Linked DNA regions of Homo sapiens. The protein of the gene in region 2 interacts with the protein of the main gene of each other region in a biochemical or structural test. Each region holds a gene or a part of one and is shown on either strand. Other genes may lie near its edges.

Region 1 (15,933 bases), on a different chromosome or scaffold from region 2:
GCAATGGGGGAGTTCAGTATTTGGGAAAAATCGGTAACAATTTCTTTAATAACTAAAGTTCATCTAGCTAACTATTTAATCTAGCTTTTTTTAAATTTTGAATTCCTGATCTACCAAATAAAATCAGGTACATAAAAAACAAAAAGTCTCTTTATCCAATTTATTGGATTAACTTACTTAAAAAAAGACTTCACTCATTAAAAATACAAATGTTTCCAAATCTGATTTTTGAAATGACTCAAATTTTGAGAATTTTAAGCAAGTGGGGGGTTATGTATTAATACTCCATGTACTATCACTTGGCCAGATGGTATCATCAAATAAAAATGAGATATACACTCATAGTAGGAATTAGAACACCTCCCGAATCCGTTTCTCATTTGGATACTATAAAGTCCAGCAACGTCTTTTAAATCACTCTTAGGATGGTTTTTAAAACAAACCAGCATACCTTTATAACCATTCCTACATCAAACTGAATCAGGGGCTCTCAATCATGGAGCATCATTCAACGTTAGTAATGGAGGTTCTTACAACCAAAGCTTTTTGACCAGAATAAGACATCTCACACAGGCTGGAATACCCACAGCGTTAAAAAATTCAATTTTATTTTCTTAGACTCTTTCACAAAATGACTGTGTTTAAACTTTCACCTAACTATTAGTGAGTTTAAAAACAGTTTCTGCTACAAAAAACAGTGTCATTTAATCATTCATTCATTCATTCACTCATTCATTATGTGATTATGCTATTGAGTGGTTTTGCTAGCGGCTGTATTCACTTGTGTGGTTCTATTCACACTTTCAGCTGACATTCCACACTTCTCTGTGCTGATATACATATATATCTTATTTATTTATTTATTTATTTAGAGACAGAGTCTTGCTCTGTCACCCAGGCTGGAGTGCAATGGAGTGATCCTGGCTCACTGCAACCTCTGCCTCCCGGGTTCAGGGGATTCTCCTGCCTTAGCCTCTGAAGTAGCGAGGACTACAGGGGCCTGCCACCAGGCCCAGCTAATTTTTTTGGTATTTTTAGTAGAGACAGGGTTTCACCATGTTGGTCAGGCTGGCCTTGAACTCCTAACCTCAAGTGATCTGCCCACCTCAGCCTCCCATAGTGCTAGGATTACAGGCATGAGCCACTGCACCTGGCCAGGACTTTTAAACTCAACAGGTTAAAAATCACATTTAGGCCTGTGCATGGTGGCACACGCCTGTAATTGCTGCATTTTGGGAGGCCAAGGTGGGTGGATTACCCGAGGTCAGGAGTTCGAGACCAGCCTGGCCAACATCATGAAACCCCATCTCTACTAAAAATACAAAAAATTAGCCAGGTGTGGTGGCGGGCACCTGTAATCCCAGCTATTCAGGAGGCTGAGGCAGGAGAATCGCTTGACTCCGGGAGGTGGAGGTTGTAGTGAGCCGAGATCGCACCACTGCACTCCAGCCTGGGCAACAAGAGCGAAACTCTATCTCTAAATAAATAAATAAATAAATAAAATAAATCACATTCAGTGTTTCTTCCCTACCTTCTCCCTTGTTCGCACAGCACGATGACATGTGCATGCTCACACACACACTTGAACTCCACGGCTTGGCTAATGACCCATCAGCCTTCTAGTCATCTTCTTCAACTCCCCTTGTCACTCCCCATCCCGCCCCATCTGATAGGTCCATTTTTCTCAAAACACTCCTTCCCTTGACTTCTGTGACACCACCCTGTTTAATACATATCTCTAAATGAGAATTGTTACTTTTTGTGCTTTCGAAAAATCTACGAAACAAATCTTGAGATATATTTGCTCAGCATTGGAGACCTAGAAATGTCTGCAGATGAATGTTAAATTTGCACAGCTGTGCCTCTTTGATCACTTTCCGAAGGCTCCTCCACTAGCCCACAATTCTCCTTTGAGTCCCTGAAATTCTAACTCCAACTTCCTCACTTTGTCTCCTTAATTGCAATAAAGCCTCAATAGCTGAGGTTACTGGTCTGTGGAAGGTGCTCTAACAGTAGATTGAAGGCAAACTCTGATTTAAAAATACCTGATTTCAAACAATGGTTGCTTGTGAACGGGGGCTGCAGCTCCTATGAGGAGGGATTGCTGTTAGCAGGCTTCTGTTCCAGGTCTGAGACACCCAGAGAGTGACATTTACTTACTTTTCATAAGCAAATGTCCACACACACTTAGACACCCTAGAGAATTCACTTGGCCAGCACCCAAGGAGAGAGGAATGAGAGAACAGAAAATTCACTGAGCAGGTGTACTTTCTCACTCAATGGATGTAACTAGCCAAGATGAAATAGTGATCTCAGGACAAGAACCCTGAAGTTGCCACCCCATCTACAGAGCTGCGTTTGAGGGGATTCTCAGAGTTGGAAAGGCTGGTTGAAATCTGAAGGCTTCTGGGCAGCAAAAAGGCAGTGCTCTCCAGAGGCTGGGGTTCCCTCAGATCATATCTGATCAAACCCAAAGAACCTATTCATATTAATCGGATGCATGGAAGCTACTTGAGTTAATTGGATACACAGATCAACAATCCACTCTAAATTGACAAGGGTGGATTATTATGCTTTTCTAGTGTCCAGAATATACATTTTTACTATCCAAAATACCACATATTAGATGGAATCAACATTCCTTGGAAGTTGGCCTAGACATTATAAGATTTTGGGAGAACTAAACAATTCCCTAGGTGAATTCCTTGGAACACTGGATCCAGAAGATACTTCATGAGAAAGAGTGTTCTGTGGCCAAATAAAGTTGGCAAGCATCCCATACTATGGTGTCATTCTAAAGAGTCCCAATGTATGGTATAACAATAAAGACTCCTTAAAGTCCTGCCATAAAAAAACAGACAACATTAGCATTTCCCTAACATATTTTATCACTGTAACTCATTAGTGATTGTTTAGCAAAACTGCATCCTAAAACACAACTCGGTGAATCCTGCTCTGTACATACACTGCATGGAGTGTGCCTCTGGGCAGGTTCGCCTTTAGCAAGTCCACTGTGCTGCGGCAGAATGACAGACTAATTTTAGGCTTTCATTTCCTCACCTACAAAATGCAATGAATACTACTGTTGTGAGAAACGACTGAGATACTATTTGTAAATCCATTTTATAATGTGCTACAAAAATGTTACCTGCTTTCTTCAGAGGCATTACAGTCCTGAGGGTATACTTCTTGCTGTGCAACTTCTCAAAATGCCTTGACAAAGGGACACTTTTGTTCATTCATTCATTCAACACCCCCTCCTTGAGTGGTAGGTCTTAAGGGCTATGGCCTGGTTTTGGACCCTGGGAAGCTTACAGACAGTGGGCAAGTGAGGTCCACTGTATTGCTTTAAGAGATACATACACATACACACACACAAGGAATTCTGGTGGCAGTGAGGGGGTGTCTTACTGGGGAAAGGAGGACAGGGTCGGGGAAATCTTTCTTGCTGAAACTATTAGGATTCTTGAAGGTTCATTAGGTAGGTTGGATATACAAGGGGAATTGGGCACAAGGTCAAAGCACTATAATACAGAGAGTATGTGAAGAATGGGCCTCCCATTAATGGGTCACACGAGCATGGACCTCTCAGGGTAGCATACCCTGTGTTTCATCTGTGATACCTGATTCATCTGTGTCCTCCAAGCAGAGGAAGAGGGTTTAGCTAAGCAAGGAGGTTCTTTCTGGAAAGTGGAAGTCCTGAAGTGGGTAGTGACCCTTGACTTTGGATAAGGTGTATGGCAGGACACCTTGGGTGGGGATAAGAGTGCTGCTGCGAAGTTATCTTTAAATAAGCACACGCCATAGCCATCCTGGGAGTCAAGCTCCCTCCCACCTGCCCTACACTAGAGGTCAAGTGTGGGCTATTTCAGTTTCCTCCTCTGCTCTGATGAACTGTCTGCAGGAGAATGTTTCCAGACAAAGGTCTTGATAGCAGGTTGGTTTTCCCCGTGTCTCCAGCCTCCAACTACTGAGAGCAAGTCTCCAAACCCAAAAGCTCCTGTCAACAGCCTTCTTCCCAAGTTCCAAAAGCAAGGGCCCTTCACTGTCCCGGGACCCTACCCATCCCTAGCCTGTGATGCTCTCTCTGGAGGTGCCAAAGCACGGGAGTGCATGAGTATTCCAGAGGCAATATTGGAACCTGAGGCAAAAAGGAAAATTAGCACCTCTATATCCACTTATGACAATATCCTCCTACATTTGAATTAGGTAAAAAGTTAATAAAAGCTCTGCATTCAGTGAACGTGACTACATCTGAAGCCAGAGTTGCTCAATCTGTTGCATGCCACTGTCAACTCTCAAACCACCAGGCAAGGGAACAAACAAATGGGGAGGTGGGGGAGGGAGACTGGATATGACTGTTCCCATTGAACAATGAAGCAGGGTTCTTTTTTTTTAGACAGAGTTTCACTCTGTCACCCAGGCTGAGTGGAGTGGCACAATGTCGGCTTACTGCAACCTCTGCCCCCAGGTTCAAGTGATTCTCCCACCTCAGCCTCCCGAGTAGCTGGGACCACAGGCACATGCCTTCAGGCCCAGCTAATTTTTGTATTTTTAGTAGAGATGGGGTTTCACCCTGTTGGCCAGGCTGGTCTTGAACTCCTGACCTCAAGTGATCTGCCTGCCTTGGCCTCCCTAAGTGCTGGGATTACAGGCATAAGCCACTGCACCCGGCCTATGAAGCAGGGTTCTAACAACACCCACCTGTATTTAAAATGTTGATTTTTGCTTATCATGAATTTTTTACATTCAATTTGGTTTTGTTAAAAAGATTGTATTAAAATACTATTTATCTTAATGATGGAGTGCTGCCCTGTGTGTTTCTTTTTTCCCAGTAAGCCCTTTGCACTCCCAGCAAGTGTTTCTTTTTGCTTCAGTATTTACAGTCCTTTTGGTCGAAGAGTACTCTGATGTTTCCTTACCGATGACAGCGTGTTCCTAAGAAACCCCAATGTGCCCAAAACCGCGCAAGGAAGTGCCGCTACACTGCGGAATTAGGAAAGCCCCAGGGATTTAAGAGCTCTGAGAAGACAGGCGCCTCTCAGGGCCCAGGGGACCGATCTTGCCCTGTATTTCTTGGCAACATATCATAGGCTTTCAAGCTGAACTTCTGCAAATCCTGCTGTCCCCGCGCGGTCGAGGGGCGCGCCACCGCCGGTGGGTGGACGCCGAGCTGGTGGGAGCCCAGGCCAAGGGTGGAGGCCAAGCCCAGAAGGGGGCGGGGAGGCCTCAAAGTGGGAAAGTGGCCCCGTCCCTTCCCGGCAGGAATCCGGGGCTCCTCCTCCGCCCGCTGCGCAGCCATCAATCACCGCGACAGCCCAAGTGCCCCCTGCCCGGACACAACAACCCTCCTGCTTTTCCACCCGGGGGAGGAAATCTCCGGTCGGAGCATCTGCCCTGCACACTGGCTGGACTCACCAGTGGGGTCCGCGCTGGGGATCAAAGCTGTGCGACACCGGGTCTGACCCGCGCGCTCAGGCGCAGGGAGCACTTGACACCCCACAGGCAGCCCTGCAGGTAGAACTCCTCAAAGGTCCCTACCAAACTCCGTCCGGTGCACACGCACGCACACCCGCACCTCCGCACCTCGAGCCATAGTGCCTGCACCCTCCAGCTGTCCCTCACCCCAGCCCCGCACAGGTCAGCTGAGGACACCCGGTGACCCTGCCGGGACCAGCGGCCACCTCGCGCTCCGGAATGTCACTCTGCCCCTTGTCCCCACTCCCTGATCCCCCTTCCCCCTTCCGTTCCCCACGATCCCCGAGGACGCGCTCTGGCTGTCTTCCTCAAGTCCCCTCCGGAGTAGGGAGAGAGTGCGCACAGCAGCACCCACGTCTGGAACCCCAGAGAGCCCCGCCCGTGCCCGGAGCCTCTCCGGGCTCTCTAGGTGCGGGCACAGGGGGTGGGGTCTCCGCTGCCACCGCCCCTTACCTCTCGCGGGCCCTCCCCGCAGGTCCCGGAGGCGGGGGCGACCGGTGGCCCCAAAGACGAGCGCGGGGCTGGGTTTCCCCGCCCGGGAGGAGCAAGAGGAGGAGGAGGAAGAGGAGGAAGGGGGAGAAAGGAGGGGAGGGGAGGGGAGAGGAGAGGAAAGAGGAGGAGGGGAGGGAAGGGCTTTGTGTTTGCCTCGGGCCGTCCCTCGGCAGTAGGGAGCCATCCCCCTCCCCCAGCCACCTTCCTGAGCTCGCAGAGGAGATGGGGCGGGGGTGATCGGATCGGAGGCAGCGACCAAGGCGCCTGCGCGACCCCAGGTCCGGCCCATCCCTCCATTCCCTGTAACCGCCAGCCTCCGCCCCTCTTGACAACCACCCGCTACGCTTACCCTGTTACAAGGAACCCAGGCTGCAACCAGGAAAAACTGCCATCAGAAAGTTTATCTAAGCCGGAGCAAACTTGGCTGGACCGGCCCCTGACCCGCCTTGGCGCTGCCGCCCCTGTCTTCTGCGGTCCCCGGCCAGGCGAGGACCAGAGTTTTGTTCTCGGAGATTCTTGCCTTTCTTGTTTTAGCACAAACGCGCACGCACCCCTTTCCCATAACGAGCCCCTCCGCCCAACTACAGATCCCGGGATCTGTTGCAGGGGCTGGAAAGGCCCCACTCGAGAGGCCTGAGCTGGCTGCGGCTCTTGGTTCCGGGGCAGGTTCTCCAGGGTTGGATACGCTCTGGACGCCTGGGCGGGTTGTTTTGCTTCGGCCTCGCTGGCCAGGGGCCCGCCCACCCCGCCTGGAACGCGGTTTGGATCGGCGCTGGGAGCCCTCCGTAACCCCAGCTGAAGGCCGCGCAGGCAGGCGGGGACGCCGGAGCTGCGGGGCCGGTTCCCAGCCAGCATCCAGCCTTTTCGGAATCAGGCGGGTCCCTGGTGATTCGCTGGGTTTTCCCACTTCCCACGGGGACCTCACCTTTGGGAATTAATTGCTGACAGTGTTAGAGTTACAAAGTAGCCAGTGTCACGGAGGGAACCTCAAAGAGACAAAGGGACACCTCGAAGGTGTCAGAGAGACGGTTGTTTTGGACAGAAACAGAACAGCGAAGCGGAAAGAAAACAGACCTTATTTCTGTTCTGTTCCACTTCAGATAGTAGCAGAGGAGACTTGGATTTCATTGGTGTTGGTTTTCGTGATTCCTGCCTTCTAAAATCCCAAGACTTATTTATCATTTATCATCAGCTCAGATCCCAGGAAAACAGTCCACTGCACTTCGGTTTCTGCTCCAAGTCACCCATTAAATAAATAATTGAACACCTGCTGGTGCCAGGCGCAGTTCTAATGCTTGGGATATGTCGGTGAACAAAGCAAAGGTCTCCCTCACCTGGGGGAGCTGAAGGCCTGCGGGGAAGAAGTGGGAGACAGAGGGTAAACCATGGCCATCCCTAAGTAAATTATTTGGGGTGTTGGAAGAGGTCGGTGATAGGGAAAACAAGAAAAAGAATATGGGGGCCCAGAGTGCTTGTGTCTGGAGCAGGTCACAGAATTAAATAGATGGTGTGTGTCAGGCCTCTGAGCCCAAGCCAAGCCATCGCATCCCCTGTGACTTGCACGTATACATCCAGATGGTCTGAAGTAACTGAAGATCCACAAAAGAAGTAAACATAGCCTTAACTGATGACATTCCACCATTGTGATTTGTTCCCGCCCCACCCTAACTAATCAATGTACTTTGTAATCTCCCCCACCCTTAAGAAGGTTCTTTGTAATTCTCCCCACCCTTGAGAATGTACTTTGTGAGATCCACCCCTGCCCACAAAACATTGCTCTTAACTTCACCGCCTATCTCAAAACCTATAAGAACTAATAATAATCCACCACTCTTTGCTGACTCTCTGTTTGGACTCAGCCCACCTGCACCCAGGTGAAATAAACAGCCATGTTGCTCACACAAAGCCTGTTTGGTGGTCTCTTCACACGGACGCGCATGAAATTTGGTGTCGTGACTCAGATTGGGGGACCTCCCTTGGGAGATCAATCCCCTGTCCTCCTGCTCTTTGCTCTGTGAGAAAGATCCACCTACGACCTCAGGACCGACCAGCCCAAGAAACATCTCACCAATTTCAAATCCAGTAAGCGGCCTCTTTTTACTCTCTTCTCCAACTTGCCTCACTATCCCTCAACCTCTTTCTCCTTTCAATCTTGGCGCTACACTTCAATCTCTCCCTTCTCTTAATTTCAATTCCTTTCATTTTCTGGTAGAGACAAAAGAGACACGTTTTATCCGTGGACCCAAAACTCCGGCGCCGGTCACGGACTGGGAAGGCAGCCTTCCCTTGGTGTTTAATCATTGCAGGGATGCCTCTGTGATTATACACCCACGTTTCAAGGGTGTCAGACCACGCAGGGACGCCTGCCTTGGTCCTTCACCCTTAGCGGCAAGTCCTGCTTTTCTGGGGAAGGGGCAAGTACCCCAACCCCTTCTCTCCTTGTCTCTACCCCTTCTCTGCCTTTCCTGGGGCAGGGGCAAGTACCCCTCAACCCCTTCTCCTTCACCCTTAGCGGCAAGTCCCGCTTTCCTAGGGGCAAGAACCTCCCAATCGCTTATTTCCGCACCCCAACCTCTTATCTCTGTGCCCCAATCCCTTATTTCCGTGCCCCAACCCTTTCTCTGCTTTTCTGGAGGGCAAGAACTCCCCACCCCTTCTCCATGTCTCTACTCTTTTCTCTGGGCTTGCCTCCTTCACTATGGGTAGGCTTCCACCTTCCATTCCTCCTTGTTCTCCCTTAGCCTGTGTTCTCAAAAACTTAAAACCTCTTCAACTCACACCTGACCTAAAACCTAAATGCCTTATTTTCTTCTGCAATGCCGCTTGACCCCAATACAAACTCGACAGTAGTTCCAAATAGCTGGAAAACGGCGCTTTCAATTTTTCCATCCTACAAGATCTAAATAATTCTTGTCGTAAAATGGGCAAATGGTCTGAGGTGCCTGACGTCCAGGCATTCTTTTACACATCAGTCCCTTCCTAGTCTCTGTGCCCCGTGCAACTCGTCCCAAATCTTCCTTCTTTCCCTCCCTCCTGTCCCCTCAGTCCCAACCCCAAGCGGCGCTGAGTCTTTCTAATCTTCCTCTTCTACAGACCCATCTGACCTCTCCCCTCCGCGCCAGCCCAAGCTAGGTCCCAATTCTTCCTCAGCCTCCGCGCCTCCCCTCCCTTCATCCCACACCTGGTCCGACTTATAGTTTCATTCTGTGACTAGCCCTCCCCCACCTGCCCAGCAGTTTACTCTTAAAAAGGTGGCTGGAGCCAAAGGCATAGTCAGGGTTAATGCTCCTTTTTCATTATCCCAAATCACATAGCGTTTAGGCTCTTTTTCATCAAATATAAAAACCCAGCCCAGTTCATGGCTCGTTCGGCAGCAACCCTGAGACGCTTTACAGCCCTAGACCCTAAAAGGTCAAAAGGCCATCTTATTCTCAATATACATTTTATTACCCGATCTGCTCCCGACATTAAATAAAACTCCAAAAATTAAATTCCGGCCCTCAAACCCCACAACAGGATTTAATTAACCTCGCCTTCAAGGTGTACAATAATAGAAAAAAGTTGCAATTCCTTGGCTCCACTGTGAGACAAACCCCAGCCACATCTCCAGCATACAAGAACTTCCAAATGCCTGAACCGCAGCGGCCAGGCGTTCTTCTAGAACCTCCTCCCCCAGGAGCTTGCTACAAGTGCCAGAAATCTGACCACCAGGGCAAGGAATGCCTGCAGCCCAGGATTCCTCCTAAGCCGTGTCCCATCTGTGCGGGACCCCACTGGAAATTAGACTGTTCAACTCACCTGGCAGCCACTCCCCGAGCCCCTGGAACTCTGGCCCGAGGCTCTCTGACTGACTCCTTCTCGGCTTAGCGGCTGAAGACTGATGCTGCCCGATCGCCTCGGAAGCCCCGTAGGCCATCACGGACGCCGAGCTTTGGGTAACTCTCAGAGTGGAAGGTAAGTCCGTCCCCTTCTTAATCAATATGGAGGCTACCCACTCCACATTACCTTCTTTTCAAGGGCCTGTTTCCCTTGCCTCCATAACTGTTGTGGGTATTGACAGCCAGGCTTCTAAACCTCTTAAAACTCCCCAACTCTGGTGCCAACTTAGACAACACTCTTTTAAGCACTCTTTTTTAGTTATCTCCACCTGCCCACTTCCCTTATTAGGCCGAGATATTTTAACCAAATTATCTGCTTCCCTGACTATTCCTGGACTACAGCCGCATCTCATTGCTGCCCTTCTTCCCAATCCAAAGCCTCCTTTGCGTCCTCCTCTTGTATTCCCCCACCTTAACCCACAAGTATAAGAGACCTCTACTCCCTCCTTGGTGACTGATCACGCACCCCTTACCATCTCATTAAAACTGAATCACCCTTACCCCGCTCAACGCCAATATCCTATCCCACAGCATGCTTTAAAAGGATTAAAGCCTGTTATCACTCGCCTGCTACAGCATGGGCACCTATAAACTCTCCTTACCATTCCCCCATTTCACCTGTCCTAAAACCAGGCAAGGCTTACAAGTTAGTTCAGAATCTGCACCTTATCAACCAAATTGTTTTGCCTATCCACCCTGTGGTGCCAAACCCATATACTCTCCTATCCTCAATACCTCCCTCTACTACCCATTATTCTGTTCTGGATCTCAAACATGCTTTCTTTACTATTCCTTTGCACCCTTCATCCCAGCCTCTCTTTGCCTTCACTTAGACTGACCCTGACACCCATTAGGCTCAGTAAATTACCTGGGCTGTACTGCCGCAAGGCTTCGCGGACAGCCCCCATTACTTCAGTCAAGCCCAAATTTCATCCTCATCTGTTACCTATCTCGGCATAATTCTCATAGAAACACATGTGCTCTTCCTGCTGATCATGTCCGATTAATCTCCCAAACCTCAATCCCTTACAAAAGAACAACTCCTTTCCTTCCTAGGCATGGTTAGTGCGGTCAGAATTCTTACACAAGAGCCAGGACCACACCGTGTAGCCTTTCTGTCCAAACAACTTGACCTTACTGTTTTAGCCTAGCCCTCATGTCTGCGTGCAGCGGCTGCCGCTGCTTTAATACCGTTAGAGGCCCTAAAAATCACAAACTATGCTCAACTCACTCTCTACATTTCTCATAACTTCCAAAATCTATTTTCTTCCTCATACCTGACACATATACTTTCTGCTCCCCGGCTCCTTCAGCTGTACTCACTCTTTAAGTCCCACAATTACCATTGTTCCTGGCCCGGACTTCAATCTGGCCTCCCACATTATTCCTGATACCACACCTGACCCCCATGACTGTATCTCTCTGATCCACCTGATATTCACCCCATTTCCCCATATTTCCTTCTTTGCTGTTCCTCACCCTGATCACGCTTGCCTCGTGCTATCCCCAAACTGCCATTCTTAACTCTTGAAGTAAATAATCTTTGCTGGCAGGGCTATGCTGAATCTCCTTAGGCACTCTCTAATCAGATGTCCTGAGTCGTCCCAATTCTTAGACCTTTTATACCTGTTTTTCTCCTTCTCTTATTCCATTTAGTTTTTCAATTCATACAAAACCATATCCAGGCCATCACCAATAATTCTACACAACAAATGTTTCTTCTAACAACCCCACAATATCACCCCTTACCACAAAATCTTCCTTCAGCTTAATCTCTCCCACTCTAGGTTCCCACGCCACCCCTAATCCCGCTCGAAGCAGCCCTGAGAAACATCGCCCATTCTCTCTCCACACCAACCCCCACAAATTTTCACCGCCCCAAGACTTCAACACTATTTTGTTTTATTTTTCTTATTAATATAAGAAGGCAGGAATGTCAGGCCTCTGAGCCCAAGCCAAGCCATCGCATCCCCTGTGACTTGCACGTATACATCCACGTGGCCTGAAGTAACTGAAGATCCACAAAAGAAGTAAACATAGCCTTAACTGATGACATTCCACCATTGTGATTTGTTCCCGCCCCACCCTAACTAATCAATGTACTTTGTAATCTCCCCCACCCTTAAGAAGGTTCTTTGTAATTCTCCCCACCCTTGAGAATGTACTTTGTGAGATCCACCCCGCCCACAAAACATTGCTCTTAACTTCACTGCCTAACCCAAAACCTATAAGAACTAATAATAATCCACCACTCTTTGCTGACTCTCTTTTTGGACTCAGCCCACCTGCACCCAGGTGAAATAAACAGCCATGTTGCTCACACAAAGCCTGTTTGGTGGTCTCTTCACACAGACGCGCATGAAAGTGTGGTCAGAGTAGTCCTCAGGGAAGGTGGGATTTGAGCCGTAAGGGTTTGAGCAGAGGATAACCTGATCTGTTATTGCTGAGAGCTCAGTCTAATGCTGTTTGGAGAGCCCACTGTCCGGGCAGAGGTGGAAATAAGCGAGGAGGCGATTGAAATAGTTCAGGCTAGAGATGGTGGCTGGTAGCAGGCTCAGAGCAGGGGTGGTGGAGAGAGGTAGTTGGATTCTTAATTATTTTGAAGGTTGAGCTGACAGCAATTCCTAAGAGGTTGGATACATGGGCAAAAGGGAGAAGTGGACAGACAGGTAGACCTGGCCCCATGTCCCTCTCTCTTCTCTTCCTTTTTCAGCTGCAGAGGGACCCGGTTTTATAGATAAAGGGTGCCAGGTAAGTGCTGAAGACACCCGGCCTCTGCTCCTTTCTTCCTGTCAAGTTTTCCTTTCTCCCCTTCCACCCACTCTCTTGAAAACATGCTTCCTCTGCCCACATTGCTCCATGCATGGATGGTCCTAGAATCTCAGTCTTTTCCAGAACTTGGGGGCCATTTTGCTCTGCCCTTCCCCAGGAAAACATCTTTTACCATAGAAATGAATTCGGGGGTTATTTATTCAAAAGTGTTTATTGAGTACCTACTATGCGCCAAGCACTGTCATAGGCACTGGAGCTACAGCAGTGAGCTAAACAGAAAAATCCCCTTGTTCTCTCTGAACTCACAATCTAATCGGGAGGGAGAGGCAATAAACCAGACAAACAAGGTGAATGTGTGGTAGTCAAGCCACAGTATTCAAGCTAAACCAGGAAGAGGAAGAGAGAGTGCTGGGGAGGCTGCACTTATAACAGAGATACTCATCAAAGAAAACCCGTGAGGACACATGGACTTATCTCATTTTTGGCAGATTTGACCTCCCATCTGAGGGTCCCAAGAGACTCAAGTGGCCGCTTCAGTCAGCTGCAGAGAGCACAAGTGCTCATGGGGCACTTTTGCAGGCTTGGGGACCAGCTAGCCAAGAAAATGTCATTTCTAATGAAGTTATTTCCCCTTTAAAGTAAACCAAGCACTGTTGGTTCTGGAAGCATTGCCCAGAGCTGGCAACTCAGCAATTTGTTTCTCTCCTCTCCTCTCCTCTCTGCTGAGCAGAACAGGTAGAAGTGAGTGTCATGTGTAAATGATTTGAAAAGTGCAATTTTTTACTCTGGACCCTGCGCTATAAAATCATCATCATAATCATTATGGCAATTCTTTTTTGTTGGTGGCTGCTGATACTGGGTAACATTACCCTGCTCAAGCACCATAGCATAGCTACCCCAGAAGACAGTAGAGAATATCAGAAGATACTTAACTATTTCCATGTATTAGAAATTACCTAAACAGTGCTTATATAACTGCATCTCCCTCTCCAAAGATATGGTTCACAAGAGAGAGGAGTTTCTAAGAAGGAAGGGACATTGAAAAAGATACATTCTTTCTACTTTTTAACTTATATCTTTGTTTCAGAATCTCAAAGAAAGGAGTCAGTGATTATCCCTGGAGTGTGGGATTACTGGGCCCTTAACATTTTTTTTTTCTTTTGGAGACAGTCTTTCTCAGTCACCCAGGCTGGAGTGCAGTGGTACAATTTTGGCTCATTGCAACATCCACCACCCAGGCTTAAGTGATCCTCTTACCTCAGCCTCCCAAGTAGCTGGGACTACAGGCGAGCACCAACATGCCTGGCTAATTTTTGTATTTTTTGTAGAGACGGGGTTTCACCATATTGCCCAGGCTGGTCTCAAAATCCTGGGCTCGAGTAATCCGCCTCCCTTGACCTCCCACAGTGTTGGGATTACAGGCATGAGCCACTGTGCCTGGCATGGGCCCTTAACTTTTCAAGTTGCATGTTTATGAATTATTTAAATATTTAAAATATTATATGAATCCTTAGTTAATCTGAAGAAAAAGCATTACCGGAAAGGGATCCCGATCCAGGTCCCAAGAGAGGGCTCTTGGCTGTCATGCAAGAAAAAATTGGAGGCAAATCCATAGAGTAAAGTAAAAGCAAAGTTTCTTAGTAGCCGCTTAGGCTACTCAGCTGCTTATGCTTATTGTTACTTCCTGATTATATGCTAAACAAGGAATGGATTATTCATGAGTTTTCCTGGAAAGCAATAGGCAATTCCTGGAGCTGAGGTTTCCTCCCCTTTTTAGTTCATATAGGGTAGCTTCCAGATGTTACCATGACATCTGTAAACTTTAATGGAGCTTGTGGGAGTGTCTTTTAGCATGCTAATGTATTATAATTAGCATATAAAAAGCGATGAGGACAACCAGAGGTCACTTTCATCCCCATCTCAGTTTTGGTGGGATCTGGCGTGCTTCCTTACCACATGCTGTTTTATCAGCAAGGTCTTTGTGACCTGTATCTTCTGCTGACCTCCTGTCTCATCCTGTGACTAAGAATGCCTTAAACTCCTGGGCATGTCACCCAGTAGGTCTCAGCCTTATTTTACCCATCCCGTTTTCAAGATGGAGTCGCTCTGGTGAGAGAATTGAAAACACAAGTGTGAAGGCAATCTTGTATATAATTACTTAAGATTTTGATATCCTCTTTGACTTTAGTATTTAAATCACTTAAAAATTTCCAAGGGTTGAGATTTCCTTGTTGTTGCTCTTTAAATTTTTGTTATTAGTTTCCAGGTTTATTGCATTGTGGTGAAGAAATGTAGCTTGTTCAATTTCTGCTTTTTTTTTTTTTTTTTGGAAATTAATTGGGGCTTTCTTTGTGATCTAGTGTATGACCAATTTTGAAAAAAAATCTCCATAGTTATCTGAACAAAAGGCATATTAAGCAAGCCCCATAATCTAGTTCTAGGCTGAGCATGTAGTAGCTGTTAAAAAATTGTTTATTTTTTAACAATTTTAACATGTGAACATGAGCAATAATTAAACGTTCATTCATCTTGCATATTTATTCTAAGTCTTTATGTCATTTACTTTATTATTTCATCTTCCAAACAGTCTTCTAGACTATATTCTGCCTTCTCCCCTACCCATCTTTGTGAAGAAAATGGATTTAGGATGGGTGTATTAACATCTTCCATTTCAATCAAAATTCTGACATTTTTCTTTGACTTTCAACTGCTCTTATTCCAGCATTTTCATGCTGTGTTACACAGTACATAAATATGTATGTGTACTGTCACGTTGCCATGGACTACATAGTTATTGGTGTAATAAAACTCCTTTGCCCCATTCAATGTGTTTCCCTTGATCTATTCTTTGACTGAAATTCATATCACGATCCCTGCTTTCTTTGTCTTTGTGTCCATGTAGTAAATTTTTGTCCACCCTTTGTTTTAAGTCTCTCTGCATCATTTTATTTTGAAAGAGTACATTTAAAGCGACATATACCACGATTGGATTTTGTTTTAAACCCAACTAATGAATTTGGTTTAATTTCTGCCATCTTGTTTTATGCTTTCTGGGTTTTATGAAACCCTGCCAATTCCTAAGTTCTGTGTTTTTGGTAAAACTGACTGTGCTCTATTTCCTTATATATTCTCCAGTCATTTGGAAAGTATATTTGTTGTTTTAAACATAGTGCTTCTTTTTTTTTTTTTTTCTTTTTGACAGAGTCTCACTCTGTCACCAGACTGGAGTGGAGTGGAGTGGAGTGGTGCGATCTTGGTTCACTGCAACCTCCGCCTCCTGGGTTCAAGTGATTTTCCTGCCTCAGCCTCTCGA
Region 2 (15,979 bases):
TCAGTTCCTGGGTTCACCACTTTCTGCATCCTGGGGAGAGGAGAAAAGAGGCTCAAGAACAGGGACTGACCAAAAGCAGAAGGGGAAGGGACAGGAGTCAGAAGTGTTTTCTGAAAAAATGGGGAGGAACACTAGGGAGGAGGAGAAAAGATACGTAAGTCGCTGTCTTGTACCTATAATACAAAGTGAAGAAAGTTTGTTTTGGAAGGTAAGTCCTGGGGGGAGTTGACCCCCAAGCCCCAGAGTAGGGGGTAGGAGGCCAGTGGCAACAGCTGCCTGGTGTTTGTTGCTGAAGCGTTAAAAAGTGCCATGACGGAGCTGTCAGGAGGCAGCCCTTGGGAGCCAGGGCTCAGTGTGCTGTTACCGTAGGGGTTGTGTGCTGAGGGGTAGGGATGGAGGTTATTTCTTAGCTCTTGTGCTAGCTCCATACTTGTTTGCTGCTAGCCACCCCCTCAGTTGCTACAACACTGGCTCTTGTTCTGCTGGGACTGTTCATGGAGATCCACACCCCGGCTTCGGCCTGCTGCACCTCCCAGATTCTGGGGTTCACTCTTTGGCAACTTCTTAGCTAGAGATAAAAAGAGAAGAGAACAAAGTATGGTAGACTTTACTTCCCTACCCCTCTGCCTCCACCCGCCAAAAACGGCTACTGAATTGGGGAAAAGGGAGAATTTGAGAGATTAAAAGAATGTTCTGAAGATGGGAGGGTTCACTATTTGCAAACTTTTTTTTTTTTTTTGAGATGGAGTCTCGCTCTGTTGCCAGGATGGAGTGCAGTGGCACAATCTCGGCTCACTGCAACCTCCACCTCCCGGGTTCAAGTGATTATCCTGGCTCAGCCTCCCAAGTAGCTGGGACTACAGGTGTGCGCCACCACGCCCAGCTAATTTTTGTATTTTTAGTAGAGACGGGGTTTCACCACATTGGCCAGGATGGTCTTGATCTCTTGACCTCGTGATCCGCCCGCCTCGGCCTCCCAAAATGCTGGGATTACAGGTGTTAGCCACCACACCTGGCCGGCAAACTTACACATTGAAGACAAGGGAGCTAAAGCTGCAGCCAAGGATGGAGGTCATAACAGAAAGTTAAGGTATTTCCATACCTAAAGTTTTTGCAAAAGGAGATACTCGCACCTATCCTTGATTTGGGTTAGCTATAATTTTGCCTATAAACGAGGGAAAAAGGAGGACCTCAGGATGTTCTGACCTTACCTATTGCCAGGAAGAGATCATTCACGTTCATAGCTGTCTTGGCTGAAGTCTCCATGAACAATAAGCTGTTGTCATCTGCATATGCCTGGGCCTCCTGCAAGGAGTGGGATGTATTAGTGCTCAGAATGTAGGGTGGGAACGAGTATTGCCTTTCCACTCCCATGCAGCACAACAGCTAGGCAAAATCCTAGGTTCCCTCCCCTTAATTAATACCCCTTTGAGCCAGCTAGCCTAGATGCATAATTTAATGACAACTCCCTCAAGATGACCCCATGTCCACTCAGTCCAACACACAAATGTCAGAAAGCTTAATTATAGGGGAGAGGGTAAGTTAGTTGGGGGCTTTTGGGTTGTGACACTTGAATAGTCCCTTACCACAAATTTAATTGCTCCCTCCTTCCTGTTTTCACACTGGTACCCCCACAGCTGGTACCTCCCTAACCCTCTGCTCTGGAGTTTTCTCCTGACTCCTTTGAAAATCTCCTGGCTGTCATTAGGGTCACAGTGTTGCTGTATTTAACTTGGTGTAGAACTGGGGAATGAGACAATGAATGTCCTCTGTTGACGTTTTCAGAGAGGGCTGGTTTGGAAAAAAAGAGGTCCCAGGAACAGAGGAAGTGTTAGAGAGGAACTCCACGGGCCACCTTACTTCATACTCCACCATACGTTTGTTGGCCAGGTCAGCTTTGTTCCCTGCCAGGGCAATAACGATGCTAGGACTGGCCTGTCGCTGTAGTTCCTTCACCCATGTCTTTGCTCGGGCAAAGGTTTCCTAGGAAAACATGAAGAGAATGAGTAGGCTGGAATGACTGCCAATCCATATCCATCACCTTTTAAAATGAGTCTCAAAATTCACCTCTTCTAGGTGGTCTTCCCTCAGTGAAACCACAGGTCTCTGATAATTCATTATCTGTCTTCTTAGCACTTGGAAGCATAATTTGTACTCTTATTTGCTATTTCAAGAACCCGTTTTCTGCCCCCTTACCCCCTGCCCCAAACTAACTCCTCTAAATATAAGCAAGGACAGTCTTTTTTCTTTTTTTTTTGAGGCGGAGTTTTGCTCTGTCGCCGAGGCTAGAGTGCAGTGGCTCGATCTCGGCTCACTGCAACCTCCGCCTCCTGGGTTCAAGCGATTCTCCTGCCTCAGCCTCCCGAGTAGCTGGGACTACAGGCGCGCACCACCACGCCCAACTAATTTTTGTAATTTTAGTAGAGACGGGGTTTCACCATGTTGGCCAGGATGGTCTCAATCTCTTGACCTCATGATCCTCCCGCCTTGGCATCCTAAAGTGTTGGGATTATAGGCGTAAGCCACCATGTCCAGCCAACAAGGACAGTCTTCTTAGCTCACTTACCTGATTAGTAATGTCGTAAACCACGATTGCAGCTTGGGCACCCCTGTAGTACATGGGGGCTAAGCTGTGATATCGCTCCTGCCCAGCTGTGTCCCAGATCTCAAACTTCACTGTTGTGTCATCTAGACAAACGGACTGGGTGAGGAAGGCCGCTATGGATGAGAGAATGGAGGGGAAGATGCTGTAAGTGGGAGGATGAATGGGAACATCCCTCCCCCCCTTCAAAATGTAACTGCCCTACACTAAGACCAGTCACCACCCAGGATAGTCAGCTACAGGAAAAGGTTTTGAGTTCTCCTTACATGTAAGTCTTGAAACCAGGATTAAGACTGCCCTTGGCTAAGTCCTTCCTGCCAGAAATGTCACTAGCTAAGGAATGGGGGTACATCATAAACTAAGAGGGACAGAAGAACTGGCACTTATACGAGTCATCCTTCTTCTAACCAAAATAGGAGAATAACAAATGACAGAGAAAATAGCTTCAGATAAAAGTCACATCAAGAATTAATTAGAAGATTGGGCTGGGCACGGTAGCTCACGCCTGTAATCCCAGCACTTTGGGAGGTGGGGGCTGAGGCAGGTGGATCACCTGAGGTCAGGAGTTCGAGACCAGTCTGGCCAACACGGCAAAACCCGTCTCTACTAAAAATACAAAAATTAGCCAGGCGTGGTGGTGGACACCTGTAATCACAGCTACTCGGGAGGCTGAGGCTGGAGAATCCCTTGAACTTGGGAGGTGGAGGTTGCAGTGAGCCAAGATGGCGCCACTGCACTTCAGCCTGGGCAACAAGAGCGGAACTCCGTCTCAAAAAACAAACAAACAAACGCAAACAAACAAAAGAATTAATTAGAGGATTGGCTGGGCGCAGTGGCTCATGCCTGTAATCCCAGCACTTTGGGAGGCCAAGGCAGGTGGATGGCTTGAGGTCAGGAGTTCGAGACCAGCCTGGCCAACATAGTGAAACCCCGCCTCTACTAAAAACACAAAAGTTAACCAGGCATGGTGATGGACGCCTGTAATTCCAGCTACTTGGGAGGCTGAGGCAGCAGAAGTGCTTGAACTGGGGAAGCGGAAGTTGCAATGGGCAACCACTGCACCACTGCACTCCAGCCTGGGCAACAGGGTGAGACTCAGTATCCAAAAAAAAAAAAAAAAAAAAAAAGAATTAATTAGAAGATTTTAAAGCTTGATGGCAAGTCCCATCATTATCAATATTATTTGGCTGTTACTTTTTCATATAATCTGCTGCAGGTCCAGGAATACATTTCCAAGATGACTAATAAAAAGGGGAAAGAGGCCAGGCACGGTGGCTCATGCTTGTAATCCCAGCACTTTGGGAGGCCGAGGCGGGTGGATCACTTGAAGTCAGGAGTTTGAGACCAGCCTGGCCAACACGGTGAAACCCTGTCTCTATACAAATACAAAAATTAGCCGGGCATGGTGGTATGTGCCTGTAATCTCCGCTGCTCAGGAGGCTGAGGCACGAGAATCACTTGAACCTGGGAGGCAGAAGTTGCAATGAGCCAAGATTGCACCACTGCACTCCAGTCTGGGCGACAGAGACTCCGTCTCAAAAATAAATAAATAAATAAATAAAAATAACAAGGGGAAGGAATAATTTGGAAGTTCTCATAAAAGATCCTTTATTGAATTAGCACCCTATTTTGGGGTAGTAGTGGGGAAAAGGTAGCAAAGATGAGAAAGACAGACACCCTTTGTATTTTGCATTAGTTCCAGCCTCTATTTTACCAGATTTTTTTTTGTTTTTGAAACAGTCTCGCTCCTTCGCCTAGGATAAAATGCACTGGCGTGATTTTGGCTCACTGCAACCTCCGCCTCATGAGTTCAAGCGAGTCTCCTGCCTCAGCTTCCCAAGTAGCTGGGATTACAGGCATGTGCCACCATGCCCGGCTAATCTTTGTTGTTGTTGTTGTTGTTTTGTTTTTTTGAGACGGATTTTCACTCTAGTCACCCAGGCTGGAGTGCAATGGCGCAATCTTGGCTCACTGCAACCTCCATCTCCTGGGTTCAAGTAGTTCTCCTACCTCAGCCTCCTGAGTAGCTGGAATTATAGGCATGTGCCACCACGCCCAGCTAATTTTTTGTATTTTTAGTAGAGACGGGGATTTCACCTTGTTGGCCAGGCTGGTCTTGAACTCCTGGCCTCAAGTGATCCGCCTGCCTTGGCCTCCCAAATGCTGGGATTACAGGTGTGACCCACCATGCCCAGCCTATTTTACCAGATTTTGATTTTTTTTTTTTTTTGGAGATGGAGTTTTGCTCTTGTCGCCCAGGGTGGAGTGCAGTGGCGCAATCTCGGCTCACTACAACCTCTGCCCCCTGGGTTCAAGTGATTCTCCTGCCTTAGCCTCCCGAGTAGCTGGGATTACAGGCGCCTGCCACCACGCCTGGCTAATTTTTTGTATTTTTAGTAGAGACAGGATTTCGCCATGTTGGGCAGGCTGGTCTCGAACTCCTGACCTCAGGTGATCCGCCCATCTTGGCCTCCCAAAGTGGTGGGCCACTGGGACCGGCCTCTGTTTTTATAAAGGGTTTCCATTTCTGGGGAAAAGAATGGGACTAAGAGGGCCAGCTCCATAATCAGGTCTTATATCTCTTTTCAAAAGCCTTACCGGCCCGGCGTGGTGACTCACGCCTGTAATCCCAGCACTTTGGGAGGCCGAGGCAGGCAGATCACCTGAGGTCAGGAGTTTGAGACCAACCTGGCCAACATGATGGTGAAACCCCCTCTCCACTAAAAATACAAAAATTAGACAGGTGCCACGGTGTGCACCTGTAATCCCAGTTACTCGGGAGGCTGAGGCATGAGAATCGCTCGAACCTGGGAGACAGAGGTTGCAGTAAGCCAAGATTGCGCCACTGCACTCCAGCCTGGGTAACAGAGCAAGACTCCATCTAAAAAAAAAAAAACCCTTACCAAACATTCAATCTCCTATTACCCCAAGGCACTCACCTCCAATGGTGCTCTCCTGGTACTCATGGAACTGCCCTTTGACAAAACGTAATACCAGGCTTGACTTTCCCACTGCAGATTCTCCCAGCAGGACCAATTTGAACTGGCAAATTTTGCTGGCCTGGGGTTGCCCATTGGGCCTAGCTGTGCTTCTGCTAGTCATGGCCAGATTATCAGAATGGGAAAGGGTGGAGGGAGGGGGATACTGTAAAGGGGGGAGGGGGAAGGGGAGGGGATTTCCAGGCTTCAACACTCCTGCAAGAAAAAAAAGTGAATAAAATTAAACATACGTCCATTGAAGCTGCAATCGCTTTTCAGAGAAGGATAGAACCTCTTCATCTCCTTGCTTCTATGAGGACTTAGCTCTGAGAAGGTCCCAGGCAGCTGATCCTCAGTGGTAAGAGTTGGGAAGAGCAAAATAAGAACTGCTTCTGGAGTCTGCCCTACCACATAATCTCTAACTGCCAAGGGAGCCGAAATAGAGAGACTGAAAACTGAGAGTTTTTAATTCCCCAGTAATTCCCCACCAGGTCTTCAAAGTTTTTTGTTTGAGTCACACAAAGTGATCAACCTTTAGCTGGCCTGAAGAATATCCAGATCCACCCACCGGTACCCTAGATCCCCAGTATCTCCTTGGCATCCTGGTGCTGTGCTCTTCTTTTCCTTTTCTTCTTTTTTTTTGAGACGTCACTCTTGTTGCCCAGGCTGGAGTGCAATGGCACAATCTTGGCTCACCACAACCTCTGCCTCCCGGGTTCAAGCAATTCTCCCACCTCAGTCTCCCGAGTAGCTGGGATTACAGGCATGCACCACCACGCCTGGCTAATTTTGTATTTTTAGTAGAGACGGAGTTTCTCCATGTTGGTCAGACTAGTCTAAGAAGTCCTGACCTCAGGTGATCTGCCCGCCTTGGCCTTCCAAAGTGCTGATATTACAGGCATGAGCCACCGTGCCTGGCCTTCTTTTCATTTTTCCTTAGCTCTTTGTCAAAATGAGAGATTCACTCTAGGGGTGTGGGATAAGAGTCACCACTCCTAAGGGCAGAAGGGTAGTTGCTGCTGTATCCTTTATATATGACCGGTCTCCCTGATAAGACATTTCTAAAGATCTAACCAGGGTCCCATTGCCACAAAATCTATCCTTTCTCATTTTTGGTTGAAGGTAAAGAGAGAAATACAACCAACAGATCACATTCATTATCAACTCTTTGTTTCATTAACAACTCTTTTTTCACTTTGTTTCTGCCATCTTTCCAAATCTGAAAGTCTATCAAGAATCAGTAAGCTTGACCTACTCTCAACTTGCAGCTGTCTTGCTGGTGCCTAGGGATTAGATTACCCTCCACACCAAAGGGGCCTAACAGCTGTAGCCCTCCAAATTAGAGGCAGAGAAAGGTATACCTTCTAAAGACATGCAGAAGTCTCCAGAGGATGGTATAGGGCGTTAAGTCTGCAAGCAATCAGTATTTGATGAAAGAATACACTGAATCAGCTCCTCTATCTTCTAAGAGGGCTAAGAAAGCTGCTGGTGGGGCAGGGAACAGAGAGAAGAGTTGGGACTTTGAGATTCTAATCGTCTAAATCTGAATACATTTCATCATCCTGACTCTGAGCGGAAAGGAACTATGAAATTCAAAGGGAAGTTAGCATAGGCAGAGCATGCAAAAACCTCTCTCCCAAACCTAAGCATTGCTTGAGAGTTGTACTTTGCTTGTTCAAATTACTCTTTCGCTTTTCCAAAGCAGATCCTAGTGACTTCACAGACATCATACTCTATGGCATATGTGGGGAAACATCATTATTTTGTCACCACAATTAGTGGGACTGGAGTTAAACTGGGGTTAAAAATTTTCAGTAACCCCACTTACTAGATCGTAAAGACAGAAAATCATACAGGAGGCAATTCAGAGGAATAAAGGCTCTGGAGTCCAATTCTCCACGTTTGTTTTTCAGCTCTACTTACTAGCTATGAACCTTGAGCAAGTCACTAAATATATGTGTGCATTCATTTCCTCATCTGTAAAATGAGATAATAGCCTTATAAGCACCTACTTCATAAGGGTGTTGTAAGGATTAAATGAGATAATGCATATAAATAACTAAAGTATTTTAAGTATTTGATAGATACTAAGTGCTAAATAAATATTAAGCTACTAATCATTACTAATATGATATAAAGAGAATTTCTCTACCTCTCTAAGCCTTACCTTCTACCTTTGTAAAATGGAAAAAATACCATCCTCATAGCTACAAATAATAAGTGAAAGATGTGTTTAGCATAGTGCTAATAGCTATTAAAATATATCTCAATATTAGTTGTTATCAATATATTCCTAAAAAGCAGCCACAGCCTGGGTGCAGTAGCTCATACCTATAATCCCAGCACTTTGGGAGGCTGAGGTGGATCACCTGAGGTCAGAAGTTCGAGCCCTGCCTGGCCAACATGGTGAAACCCCGTCTCCACTAAAAATACAAAAAAAATTAGCTGGGTGTGGTGGTGCATACCTGTAATCCCAGCTACTCCAGAGGCTGAGGCAGGAGAATCGCTTAAACCCAGAAGGTAGAGGGTGCACTGAGCTGATGCGCCACTGTGCTCCAGCCTGGGTGACAGAGCGAGACTCCGTCTCAAAAAATAAAAGGCGGGCACAGTGGCTCACGCCTGTAATCCCAGCACTTTGGGAGGCAAAGGCAGGCAGATCAGGAGGTCAGGAGTTTGAGACAAGCCTGGCAAACATGGTGAAACCCCGTCTCTACTAAAAATACAAAAATTAGCTGGGCGTGGTGGCGCGTGCCTGTAGTCCCAGCTACTTGGGAGGTTGAGGCAGGTGAACTGCTTGAACTTGTGAGGTGGAGGTTGCAGTGAGCTGAGATTGCACCACTGTACTCCAGCCTGGCGACAGAGCAACAGCGAGACTCAGTCTAAAAAAAAAAAAAAAAAATTAGCCGGGTGTGGTTGGTGGCCGGCATTTGTAATCCTACTCGGGAGGCTGAGGCAGAACTGCTTAAACCCGGGAGGCGGAGGTTGCAGTGAGCCGAGATCGTGCCACCACACTCCAGCCTGGGTAACAGAGCAAGACTCCACCTGGGGTGGGTAGGGGGGAGATCGGGGGCAGGGAAGAAGCCACAATATGAAAGTGGTACAGAGAAAGAAAAAGAGAAAAAACAGGCCTGGCAGAGCGGCCCATGCCTGTAATCCCAGGGGTTTGGGAGATAAAAGGGGAAGCCTTGCTTGAGGTGAGGAGTTTGAGACCAGCCTAGGCAACATAGCGAGACTGAGTCTCTAGAAAACATTTAAAAAAATTAGCTGGGCATGGTGGTATGTGCCTGTAATCCCAGCTACTCCAGAGGCTGTGGTGGGAGAATCACTGGAGCCCAGGAGTTGAAGGTTGTAGTGAGCTGATTACACCACTGCACTCCAGCCTGGGCGACAGAACAAGACGCTATCTCTGGAAAAAAAAAAAAAAAAAAAAGGAGACATAACTAAAGGGTAAAGAGGAAGTTAGCAAAAGAATGAGAGGTGAGAACTCAAGGTCCCAAAGTAGACTAGATTAATACAGAGGAACATGACAATTACTTTGATTCTACTGGGTATTCTGTAGTCCCCTTGGTCAGTCAGTCTTAAAAATTCAGATATACATGTACCATTTTATGATTAAGTTTTCAATGGCCTATGACGAAAGGATCAAAATAAAGATGATACAGCAAATTTTTCATAAAGCTAAATTTATTCAATTTAAATGAGTATCTTTAATTATAACATTTTAAAATTTATTTTCCATTTTTAGAGAGAGTCTCACTCTGGTGTTTGAGAGGTCAGGAGTTTGAGACCAGCCTGGCCAACATATAGTGAAACCCCGTCTCTACTAAAAAATACAAAAATTAGCTGGGTGTAGCGCCACATGCCTGTAGTCCCAGCTACTTGGGAAGCTGAGGCAGGAGAATCGCTTGAACCCAGAGGGCGGAGGTTGCAGTGAGCTGAGATTATGCCACTGTACTCCAGCCTGGGCAACAGAGCAAGACTCCGTCTCTCAAAATAAAAAATAAATAAAAGAGAAGACAGGTGACACCATAATAAAAAAAAAAGGACAGATGATAAGCTGATCAAGTTTCCTTCAGGTGACATATATATGCTATACTCTCAAGAAACAATAGAAAAAGTTACTGGTTTTTTCAACTTACTCCCTTACATTTTTATGTATTTCAAAGCATGTGATCCAAGGGGTAGAATATTAAGCCTCAATGTTACTACTCTACAATAAAGGAAAATGTGGGAGTTAGAATGGACTGAATTCTCATGGCTAAACATATCACTTGAGCTCTGGGGGAGTGTAAAGACAGGAAACAATTGCAGACACGCTTGAGTTGCAAAGTCTCTGTCACTAACTCTCAGAGATGGGAAGTCAAGCCAGAGCCCAGATGTGGTCAGCAAGCTTTCTTGCTACTAAGCAACCTTGGATTCTCAGAGATCAGTAACTACTGACTTAGAAAAGACTACCTCGTACCCTAATATGTAGCCTTAAGAGTATGTTCTGGCTGCACATCATGGTTCACGCCTGTAATACCAGCATTTTGGGAGGCCAAGGCAGGAGGATCACTTGAGCCCAGGAGTTTGAGACCAGCCTGGGCAACATAGTGAGATCCCACCTCTGAAAAAGAAAGAATATGTCCTGCCTTCCTCCCTGTTCACAGCAATTGTTGAGCCACCTCTAAGCTTTGATCTTTAATCTTATCATGTTTATAAGGGTATCATTTAAAAAATATAATAGCTAGACTCTCAAAAATTCTGTGGTACAGAAATGAAATAATACATATAAGATTCAATTATTTATTTTCTATTCTCATTTTTTCCCACAAAAATACTAATTTTTTTTTTTTTTTTTGGTAAACCAGTCAAGTGGTATGATGATTATTACCTTCAAACCCGAGACAAAAAAAAGGGAGATGGGGCAGGTTTCTCTTCCTTTCAACCTTTTTAGCTCAGAAGAGAAGAAATCAGATTTAACTTCCCTTAGAAGTGCAGCTCTGCCGGGTGCAGTGACTCATGCCTGAAATCCCAGCACTTTGGGAGGCTGAGGTGGGCGGATCACCTAAGGTCAGGAATTCAACACCAGTCTGGCGAACATGGTGAAACCCCGTCTCTATTAAAAACACAAAAATTAGCCAGGTGTGGTGGCTGACACCTGTAATCTCAGCTACTTGGGAGGCTGAAGCAGGAGAATTGCTTGAACCTGGGAGGCAGAGGCTGCAGTGGGTCGAGACTTTGCCACTGCACTCCAGCCTGGGTGACAGAGCAAGACTCCATCAAAAAAAAAAAAAAAGAAGTACGGCTCTACAAGAATGACTTATAAAATGACCCATTAACTAGGGAGGATTGAGGCCTGACCATGGGTTAGCCCACTAGATGCAGGAGACCCATGGAGGATGTTCTTTAATGTGGGCAACTCTCCCAAGCAGTGCAGCAAAGTAGGCATAACAGTAAAAGTGTCTTAGCAGTCCCAGCTAGAGTAAGACTCCATTCCTCAAGCCCCCTTCCACTTGTTAGCTTTGAGTCCCTAAACCAAATACATATGAAGTCTCCAGAAGTCTATCACCTATCAACAGAGACAGAGTTCTCGGTATATATAGCCACTGGAGTCCAACCCAGTACCAGTTGTCAGCCTTAAGGTCAGTCAGGCAGATCAGAGCCAGTCTAGAGGTCATTTAGTCCAGTCTCTATATTTTATAGGTGAGGAAACCGAGACACATACAATTAGTCAATTTGGGCTAGGCGTGGTGGCTTACACCTGTAATCCTAGCACTTTGGGAGGGCGAGATGGGCAGATCACCTGAGGTCAGGAGTTTGAGACCAGCCTGGCCAACGTGGTGAAAACCTGTCTCTACTAAAAATACAAAAATTAGCTGGGTGTGGTGGTGCGTGCCTGTAATCCCAGCTACTCAGGAGGCTGAGGCACGAGAATTGCTTGAACCTGGGAGGCAGAGGTAGCAGTGAGCCGAGATCACACGACTGCACTCCAGCCTGGACAACAGAGCGATTCCGTCTCAAAAATAAATAAATAGCCCCATCCCTTCCCCGGCTCCCCCGGTGTCCGCCATGGCCAAAGCCTACGACCACCTCTTCAAGTTGCTGCTGATCGGGGACTCGGGGGTGGGCAAGACTTGTCTGATCATTCGCTTTGCAGAGGACAACTTCAACAACACTTACATCTCCACCATCGGAATTGATTTCAAGATCCGCACTGTGGATATAGAGGGGAAGAAGATCAAACTACAAGTCTGGGACACAGCTGGCCAAGAGCGGTTCAAGACAATAACTACTGCCTACTACCGTGGAGCCATGGGCATTATCCTAGCATACGACATCACGGATGAGAAATCTTTCGAGAATATTCAGAACTGGATGAAAAGCATCATGGAGAATGCCTCAGCTGGGGTGGAGCACCTCTTGCTAGGGAACAAATGTGACATGGAGGCCAAGAGGAAGGTGCAGAAGGAGCAGGCCGATAAGTTGGCTCGAGAGCATGGAATCCGATTTTTCGAAACTAGTGCTAAATCCAGTATGAATGTGGATGAGGCTTTTAGTTCCCTGGCCCGGGACATCTTGCTCAAGTCAGGAGGCCGGAGATCAGGAAACGGCAACAAGCCTCCCAGTACTGACCTGAAAACTTGTGACATAAAGAACACCAACAAGTGCTCCCTGAGCTGAGGACCCTTTCTTGCCTCCCCACCCCGGAAGCTGAACCTGAGGGAGACAACAGCAGAGGGAGTGAGCAGGGGAGAAATAGCAGAGGGGCTTGGAGGGACACATAGGTAGATGGTAAAGAGAATGAGGAGAAAAAGGAGAAAAGGGAAAAGCAGAAAGGAAAAGAAGGAAAAGAGAGGAAGGGAGAAGGGAGAGGAATGAATTGAGGAAGTGAACGAAGGCAAGGAGGTAGGAAGAGAGGGAGGAGGAAAGGAAGGAGAGATGCCTCAGGCTTCAGACCTTACCTGGGTTTTCAGGGCAAACATAAATGTAAATACACTGATTTATTCTGTTACTAGATCAGGTTTTAGGGTCCTGCAAAGGGCTAGCTCGGCACTACACTAGGGAATTTGCTCCTGTTCTGTCACTTGTCATGGTCTTTCTTGGTATTAAAGGCCACCATTTGCACAAAAAATAAATAAATAAATAAAAAATAAAATAAAATTAGTCAACTTGTCAAGTGTTACCATACAGCCAACTGCTAAGCAGTAAATGTAGGACTCCTAGTCAGGTACTCCTGCCTCTTATACCACTATACTTCTTAAGGAAGCAGGAAATGCTGAACTCTAAAGAGAACACCAGGACAGGATCGAGAGCTTAGACTGGATAGAGTTCCTGCCTCTATTCAGTTTAGGTAAGTACTTGCTTTGGGACTAAAAACAAATTAAGAAGACCCAGGCCTTCCTTGGCAACTGGGATGCAGTCCCATATCTTTCTGACAGAAGAATTAATTCATCACTACTCTTTTCTAGAAGGTCTATGACCAAACCCTGCCAGGACAGTTGAAATAGAAGCAATTCAATGAGAGGCAATAGGAAAACAAGCGGTAACTTTTGCAGAATTTGGTGGGCCCTGCGATTAATGTGAGAGTTTTACTAAGTAGGGAAGATAGAGCAGAAACCAGTAAATACCTTCATCTCCCTCTCCAACTCTGTTTAAACCCAAGTCACCAAAATCTTGAAATGAGAGTTCTACCACTTGGCTCAGCTCTTCATTTTGTTGATCCAGTGTTACCTAATGAGTCATTGGATTAAATGAGATTCCTTCCACATCTCGCACCCTTTCCCTTATATTTCTCCAAGAGGCAAAAAGCATACTTACCTCTTATCAGTATGGTAGTACAAACTCCCTATTATTGACCTAGGTAAGATTGGAATGCCCGTCCCTACTTGTCTGCCTAGCAAAATTCTATATATCTCATAAGACCAAGCTCAAATGTTACTTCAGTGAAATTACATAATCACCCTCTCCCCCACAGAATTAATCATTCTCTAGAGGCCCGTAGGGTCCCACAGTATTAAGACTGTATTTCTGGCCAGGTGTGGTGGCGCACACCTGTAATCCCAGCACTTTGAGAGGCCAAGGCAGATGGATCACTGGAGGTTAGGAGTTCGAGACCAGCCTGGCCAATATGGTGAAACCCCGTCTCTACTAAAAATACAAAAATTAGCTGGGCATGTTGGCACAGGCTTGTAATCCCAGTTACCCAGGAGGCTGAGACATGAGAATTGCTTGAGCCCGGGAGGCGGAGGTTGCAGTGAGCACAGATTGCACCACTGTACTCCAGCCTGGACAGCAAAGCAAGAATCCGTCTCAAAAAAAAAAAAAAAAGACTGTATTTCTATAATAGTATGTATCACATTATCACAGTATATAAATTGTGTCTGTCTGCTCTGCTAAACTATGAACTTCTTTAAAAGTGGGAGTTTATCTTAAAATCTTCAGAGCACAGCATGCTGCCTGATCCCTAGTAGGTGCTCATTAAATGCTCCCTAAATTAAGGCTAAGTAATTCTACTTCTCTCCCCCAATCAACTCCTCCCTTTCTGTACCATCTGGACAGATCTTACTCAATTCCATTTGGGTTCTTTTTTTTTTTTCCTGAGACGGAGTCTTGCTCAGTCGCCCAGGCTGGAGTGCAGTGACGCGATCTCGGCTCACTGCAAGCTCTGCCTCCCAGGTTCACGCCATTCTCCTGCTTCAGCCTCCCGAGAAGCTGGGGGACTACAGGCGCCCACCACCACGCCCAGCTAATTTTTTGTATTTTGTTTAGTAGAGACGGGGTTTCACCGTGTTAGCCAGGATGGTCTCAATCTCCTGACCTCGTGATCCACCCGCCTCAGCCTCCCAAAGTGCTGGGATTACAGGCGCATGCCACCGCACACGGCCCCATTTGGGAATATTTTTAATAGGCCTCAGAATCAATTCTCTCCCTGGCTCCTCTGTGATCTCCCTTGGATGGAGGGCCCCCTTGGGATCTTGCCCACAAGGTACTATTGCAACTCGCATGGGCTAACTGCTTTTCCTGTCACCCGTTACTATGCCTCAGATGGCCTAATCACACCCAATATGTGGCCCTCCCACCCAAACACTGAGGCAACTATAGCTAAAAACAAAGTTCGCTGAATTTTCAGTTGATGTTGAACGGTCAAAAGCTTTGGGCCACTATCTATTAATTCCTGACTTGAGAAACACAAGTTTAAAAAAAGGAGCCATAACACCACAGAACCAGGAGACACTCTGAAAAGGTACCCACTGTCCCTGAACAGAAGCTACAACCTTGCCCAGAAATGTACACATACTTTGTTCACCTGGGTAGCTCCTTATTCAGTTCAGTTACTGTTGAGTCAATGGCTAAATCTTTCCCAAAACGGAAGTGGGAGTATACCATGTAGGGTTTTATGGTATCCTTCCTCCAAGAGGGCTGCTGCATTTCCTTATTATAAGTTCATTGTCTCACACTTTGGTTACCTTCCAATCTGAAATGCTTTAGGATTAGGGAGCAAACTATACGCTTGCTTCTTCTACCCTATGCCTCCTTCTCAGAAGTAAAATTCATACCAATAAGCAATATTTGCTCCCAGGTAAAGTAAGAGTTAGAAGATATGAGGTATGTTATGCAGTAGGGATTGTCCAGGAAAAAAATTTTAAAAGATATGAGGTATGACTTGAAGGGCAATGGGAAAGCTCTCTTCTCCAAATATATTTTTGCAACTCCAGGTCTATGTATGAAATTCCTTATTGATAATTCTACTCCTAAACTCTCTTAGGATGCAAAAAACTGTTGGAAAAATTAGATAGGATTAAAACACACACACACACACGCACACACGGCCAGGCGCGGTGGCTCACTCCTGTAATCCCAGTGCTTTGGGAGGCTGAGGCACGTGGATCACCTGAGGTCAGGAGTTAGAGTCCAGCCTGGCCAACATGGTCAAATCCCGTCTCTACTAATAATACAAAAATTAGCTGGTCGTGGTGGTGCACGCCTGTAATCCCAGCTACTCTGGAGGCTGAGGCAGGAGAATCGCGTGAACCTAGGAGGCAGACGTTGCAGTGAGCCGAGATCATGCCACTGCACTCCAGCCTGGGTGACAAAAGTGAAACTCCGTCTAAAAACACACACACATACTCCTACACAACTGTCTCTAGGACTGGCTTGCAGGTGAGAAAAGTTCCTTGGGGGAAAAAACCGAGGTTTCCAATGGGCGCTGTACAAAGGCTGGGTACAACAGAGGGCTTTTAAAGCTAGTAAGGACAAATTCAATTAATAAGGTGGTAGTATGAAATGCCCCAGCTGTACTCTGACTCTGAGATTTAGAGGAAAACCGATTTCAAATCCAGATAAGCTTGGAGCTTCTCAGATCCCTACAGAAAGACACACACTGTACTCCAGCCTAAGTGACAAAGCAAGACCCTGT

What was found.
Region 1: the proteins of RAB5B (region 2) and RIN2 form a complex in vitro, tested with the Homo sapiens proteins (one study listed by BioGRID).

Annotation. Positions count from the first base shown.
Region 1 is NC_000020.11:19,748,326-19,764,258, reverse strand, and holds the start of RIN2 (ras and Rab interactor 2), read right to left. Parts: upstream 6,002-15,933; 5' UTR 5,932-6,001; intron 1-5,931. UniProt on the Homo sapiens protein: Ras effector protein. May function as an upstream activator and/or downstream effector for RAB5B in endocytic pathway. May function as a guanine nucleotide exchange (GEF) of RAB5B, required for activating the RAB5 proteins by exchanging bound GDP for free GTP.
Region 2 is NC_000012.12:55,976,686-55,992,664, reverse strand, and holds part of RAB5B (ras-related protein Rab-5B), read right to left. Parts: intron 13,294-15,979; coding exon of another isoform or gene 13,191-13,293; intron 5,797-13,190; coding exon of another isoform or gene 5,705-5,796; coding exon 5,542-5,704; intron 2,719-5,541; coding exon 2,567-2,718; intron 1,984-2,566; coding exon 1,861-1,983; intron 1,306-1,860; coding exon 1,212-1,305; intron 569-1,211; coding exon 453-568; 3' UTR 1-452. UniProt on the Homo sapiens protein: The small GTPases Rab are key regulators of intracellular membrane trafficking, from the formation of transport vesicles to their fusion with membranes.